Regions from separate parts of the Homo sapiens genome. Here region 1 is linked to region 2. Evidence: fine-mapped expression QTL. Tissue or cell type: esophagus muscle. Region 2 holds a variant in brackets; the other region holds the start of a gene. All regions are shown on one strand. Distances are from middle to middle.

Region 1 (2,910 bases), 27 kb after region 2:
TTTCCCCTGGAGAGCTTAGAACATCTTTGCTGCTGGATTTGATTTTCCTCCAGGGATGCTGAGTTCCATTCTGATACCTCAATGCATGCGTTTTACTTTTAGGTGTTTCACAACCAGCTCCTTCGTTTTCTGGGGAAACATGATTCAGTTAACAGAAGGTGGTGGAATCTATTCCCATCTCAGCTAGGCCTGAGGCAGGCTGGGAACCCGAATCTTCTTTGGTCCCACCTCAATCCGTGAAAGCCGCCCACCAGCCCACCGGACAGGGAGAATGTGGGTGGGACACCAATGGAGAAGAGAAACGAAAGGTGCTGGCACTAAAGCCAGAGTTGTATTAGACCCTGCTCTGATGCTAGGATCCCAGACGTCCGCTCTTCCCAAGCATCTAAGGCGTCTGCAGGCCAGGCCTCTAACTGATTTAACATAACCTGATGAAGACAACAGTTCGAGTCCTGCCACTCCAGCCACACAGCAACACCTTAGAGCAGAAAAGGAACAAAATGCCATTGCATAATTTATTCAACCTCAAGGTATTTCTAAACAGTTCTTACCCAACCAAAAAAAAAAAATTCTAAAAATAAAAACATTAAAAAGCCACCCACATCTCGTTCTGAAGTTTTAAGGGCTGTGAGGTTTGTGTCAAGCAGATTTGAAGCTAACGACCGCAGGTTTGGGGAGTCTCGCCTGCGATGAGGGTCCTGCAATGAGACGCCGTTTCTGTGTCTCCGGGTAAGTCCCAGGCTGGGTGCGAGGGGGCCAGGCCCTGCCCCTCCGCGCCCCGAAATCCGAGCCCCAGGAGAGCCCCCCGGATATTCCCTAGCCCCGCCTGCGGTTCCCACAGACTTTACCCCGAAGCTGCGGAGATCCGGGGTGGCAGCCCGAATGGCGGCGGCCCCGGGCCCATGGGGACCCTTGGCCCCGTACTCACCGAAGTCCAGGAATTGTTTGATGGAGAGCGGCGACGGCGAAAAGCGCGAGTAGCGCTCGATCTGCTTGGGCACCGGCTGCTTCAGCAGCCACCGGAACAGCCGCATCCTCGCCCGGGCGGCGCACAGACCCGCCTAGACGCCCGGGTGGCCGCAAGGGCTGGCGCAGCCAAGCCGCACGGATAGGGCACGTTTGCGAAGCGCGCACCCCGGCCTCGATCTCGGCCTCGGCGCCGCCGGTGCAGCCGCCGCAGCAGCAGCAGCAGCTCCAGGACAGCGGCGGGCCGCCCGCGGCTTCCCTAGGCTCCGCCTCGCTGGGCGGAGTCGGTTGCTGCACGTACGCGGCGCGCGAGGGGAGGCGAGGAGCGCGAGGGGCACGCGGCCGCGCGCGCCCTCCACTGATTGGCCGCCGCTGCCTCTGTGACGTTTGTGTTTTGTCCGGGCGCGGCGCCAGAGACCCCCCTCCCTGGCTCATGGGACTCAGCCCAGCCCAGCAAGTGCAGCCGCTTTCAGCTCCGCCTCTGGCTGGGTTCTCCGCTGCCGAAAGGTAGCCGAGGTGCCCGCGGACCGGGAAGAGGCCAGGAGCCCGGAATCCGATCCTCCGCGCTGCTCAAGACCCTTCTCAACCGCAGGCGCCTTTTCCGGGAGGAGGACTTGCCGTTCGCTGCATCCTGACACTTAGATTTTACAGCCTAACTAGACTGACTCTGTTTCGTGGCCCAGCCCCACCCCCACCTCCCTGCCTGACTCCCAAGAGAACACCTTTGGAACACCTTTGGACTGGATTGTTAGTTCGCTGATTCTCTTTTTCGTGGTTCCTTTCCCCTCCTTCCCGCACAAGATTAAGTGACTGATTGCATTTCATGTCCCCCCACCACCACCGTTGGACGGGATCCATTGTGAGGTCAAGGGTCAATAACACCCCCTACCTCCCCAATGCCAGTGGACAGGATAATTGCAAGGTCACTGACTCTGTTTCATACCCCCCCACCCCACTACTACCATTGGAAAGGATCAAATGTAAGGTCACTGGCACTTTCTTTCATACCCCTTCTCTACACCACCACCATAGGACAGCCCCCTTCACGCTTCACCACCACTTTTGGACAGGAGTCTATGCTTACACAGTGTTGGGTATTCTTTATCTCAAGTGAACTTGAGAGCCTGGCATGGTGACATGCACCTATAGTCCCAACGACCCTGCAGGCGGAGGTGGGAGGATCACGTGAGCCCAAAAGTTCAAGATCTGCCTAGGCAACATACCCAGACCCCCCTCTCAAAAAAAAAAAAAAGTGAACTTGAACTCAGGGCTCAGTATATGAAATTGTTATTTCCTATTATGAGTGAATAAAGTACAGCTTACTTTAGCCATTTCCACCAAACCTTGGCTTTTTTTTTTTTTTTGGCAATATGTAAACATAAACATATGTAACTAAAAGGACAGGAAGAATGTTCTTTAAGGAAAGGTACAAATGTGACTGGAAGCCACTCCTTGGGTCTCTGATTGGACTAGTTTTCTCACTGAATGAGATTATTGGTGGGTAGCTATTTAGCTTTTGTGCCTTCAGTGGACGTTTATGCAGCCAATTCTTTGCTTAATAAAATAGTTGCATCTCTACTCTGAATGTAAAGAAAAGTAACATACACAGTAAAAGACCTCGGCCAGGTGCGGTGGCTCACGCCTGTAATCCCAGCACTTTGGGAGGCCGAGGCGGGCGGATCACGAGGTCAGGAAACCGAGACCATCCTGGCTAACGTGGTGAAACCCCAGCTCTACTAAAAGTACGAAAAATTAGCCGGGCGTGGTGGCGGGCCCCTGTAGCCCCAGCTACTCAGGAGGCTGGGGCAGGAGAATGGCATGAACCTGGGAGGCGGAGCTTGCAGTGAGCCGAGATCGTGCCACTGCACTCCAGCCTGGGCGACAGAGCAAGACTCCATCTCAAAAAAAAAGACATCCAGTGGTCTTCTAGACTTTTGGATTTTC
Region 2 (2,910 bases):
GAAGGGGTGTAATGCCCCCACAATGACCTTCCAACATCTATTCTATACACATTCATTTGGCCTTAGGCAATTAACATTTAAAATGACTCTGGTCATTTTTTTTTTTTTTTTGACGGAGTGTTGCTCTGTCGCCCAGGCTGGAGTGCAATGGCATGATCTCGACTCACTGCAACCTCCGCCTCCTGGGTTCAAGTGATTCTCCTGCCTCGGCCTCCCAAGTAGCTGGGACTACAGGCACCCACCACCACGCCTGGCTAATTTTTCGTATTTTTAGTAGAGACGGGGTTTCACTGTGTTAGCCAGGATGGTCTCCATCTCCTGACTCGTGATCCACCCGCCTCGGCCTCCCAAAGTGCTGGGATTACAGGCATGAGCCACCGCGCCCAGCCAGCTCTGGTCATTTTGCTTCAAATAATATAGAGACAGTCCCCAACTTAAAACAGTTCAACTTATGATTTTTTGATTGTTTAATCTTCTCACTTTATGATGGGTTTATCTAATTATTAAGGGCTTTTTTGTTTTGAGACAGAATCTCACTGTCACCCAGGCTGGAGTGCAGTGGCATGATCTCCGCTTACTGCAACCTCCACCCCCCAGGTTCAAGCGGCTCTCGTGCCTCAGCCTCCCGAGTAGCTGGGATTACAGGCGCCCGTCACAATGCTTGGCTAATTTTTGTGTTTTCAGTAGAGATAGGGTTTCATCATGTTGGCCAGGCTGGTCTCGAACTCCTGACCTCAAGTGATCCACCCACCTTGGCCTCCCAAAGTGCTGGCATTACAGGCATGAGCCACTGTGCCTGGCCAAGTGCATTTTTGAGTTACAATATTTTCGACTTATGATGGATTCATCAGGATGTAACCCCACTGTAAGTCAAGGAGCATCTGTATATTATTCCTAAAAGGTTCTGGATGAATATAATTTTAATTTTAAATGCAATAAAATTGCTGATATTTATCACAGTGAATCTCATTATAAAATGAATTCCCTATTATCTAAGTTAAAATAAAAGTCTAGCTTTTCACATGCCAGGAAAAATACTTTGCATCCTGGCTAAACAGAAAGGAAATTATCTTTAAATCACAAAAGAAACATTGATGTTCTCACTGTGGGATGACAAAGACTCTCTCCTTTGACCAAACTTGAAACCGGTTCTTCTGGGTTTGTTTGCTTTTGGAGACAGGGTCTCACTCTGTCACCCAGGCTGCAGTGCAGTGGTACAATCACGGTTTACTACCACCTCAACCTCCTGGGCTCAAGTGATCCTGCCACCTCAGCCTCCCAGGTAGGTGGGACAGCTGGCTAATTTTTGTATTTTTAGTAAAGAGGGGGTTTCGCCATGTTGCCCAGGCTGGTCTCGAACTCCTGGGCTCAAGCGATCCTCCCGTCTCAGCCTCCCAAAGTGCTGGGATTACAGGCATGAGCCACCGTGCC[C/T]GGCTCTGAGTCCTCTTTCTGACTAGGCCTCGACTTTGGGTTCTATCTTGACCTGCTTAGTCCAGTCTCAGCAAAAATCCTGCTGAGTCATTTTAGTGAAAATCCCCTACCCTTGGTGTCTGATCCCCCTACCCTCGATATCTTATCATGCTGGCCTGCCTTCAACAAGAATCCCCTCCAACCTGGATTTTTCCTCTTAGTAACTTTCCACCCATTGACCCACACTCTGCTCCTTGGCTATAAATTTCCACTTGTCCTTGTTGCATTAGGAGTTCAACCTGATCTCTCCCCACTATTGCAAAACTCCCACTGTAGTGGTCCCTCTTGAATAAAGCCTTCCCTACCATCTTTAACAAGTATCAGATAATTTTTTTTTCTTTTTTCTTTTTTTTTTTTTTTGAGACAGGGTCTCGCTCTGTCACCCAACCTCCACCTCCCGAGTTCAAGCAATTCTCCCTGCCTCAGCCTCTGGAGTAGCTGGGATTAAAGGCATCCGCCACCATGCCCGGCTAATTTTTGTATTTTTACAAAGAGATAGGGTTTCACCATGTTGGCCAGGCTGGTCTTGAACTCCTGACCTCAGGTGATCCGCCCACCTCGGCCTCCCAAACTGTTGGGATTACAGGTGTGAGCCACCAACCATGTCTAGCCAGTTTTTTTTTTTCTTTAAGAGGAAAAAGGAAGTTCTGGAATAGGGAAGAAGTAGAAGAATTCTGGTGTTAAACTGAAACTGGTAGTATCAGTATGAACTAATAATTTTTTCACAATTATGAGTTTTTGAGGGTAATGAAAGTATACATGTTTAAATTTCCAAGTTGGCAGCCTGTTAGGAGTCACAGGATACGAGCATGTTGTGAGCAGTGAGAGCTGGCTGGCAGGTGTGAGGTGGCCATAGTCAGCTTCTCATCTCTTCTCTAGAAGTTGCAGATCTAGATGGTTTCAGAATTTAAAGGTTTTTCAATTTTAGGAAGGTAAAAAGGAGTCTATACCATACATTGTACAATACAGAGTATTAGAGAGCCACAACATAGCTGCAGTGAAATACGTGAACATTTCCAGTAAGTAGGATAAGGACTATGGAATCAAGTCAGTTCAGGTCTGGTTTTGCCACAAAATGAGTTGTGGCAGCAAATATATGAAAAAGAAATTCAATTTTCAGAGTTTTTTGAGTTCAGGATTCAGAGAAAAGCTTATGGTCCTGCGGGGCGTTGATGACAAAGGTCAGGTGCTGAAGTTCGATGACAAAGGTCAGGGTTTGAATCTTGACTAGAGCATTCACAAGCTTCATGAGCAGGGGTAAGTTTCTTTACACTTCTAAACTTCATTGTAACCACCTATAAAAAAAGAGCAGTATCTACTTCACAGAGATTTGGTGAGGGTTAACATGTGCTTAACATTTAAACCAGAGGCAGTGGCTCACGCCCGTAATCCTAGCTACTTGGGAGGCTGAGATGGGAAGATCATGTGAGGCCAGGAGTT

Direction of the effects. Alleles are on the strand shown, and positions count from the first base shown. SD is a standard deviation of normalised expression in the study named.
In carriers of allele C in region 2, the expression in esophagus muscle of the gene that starts at base 1,204 in region 1 tends to be lower than with T alone (moderate effect, 0.61 SD a copy in GTEx).

The links. PIP is the estimated chance that this variant, and not a neighbour inherited with it, causes the effect.
Region 1: it holds the start of PDK3, and the variant in region 2 is fine-mapped to the expression of PDK3 in esophagus muscle (GTEx, PIP 0.97).

Annotation. Positions count from the first base shown.
Region 1 is chrX:24,463,580-24,466,489 of GRCh38, reverse strand. PDK3 (pyruvate dehydrogenase kinase 3) reads right to left here and starts at 1,204. Exons shown (of 11, transcript NM_005391.5): 1 at 929-1,204. The coding sequence starts at 1,034. RefSeq lists a silencer at 1,144-1,463.
Region 2 is chrX:24,490,199-24,493,108 of GRCh38, reverse strand. All of the region lies in intron 1 of PDK3 (pyruvate dehydrogenase kinase 3), which reads right to left. Among named protein-coding and RNA genes, the nearest start is that of PDK3, 26 kb to the right of the region's middle. RefSeq lists an enhancer at 912-1,875. The variant C/T (reference allele first, on the strand shown) is at 1,432.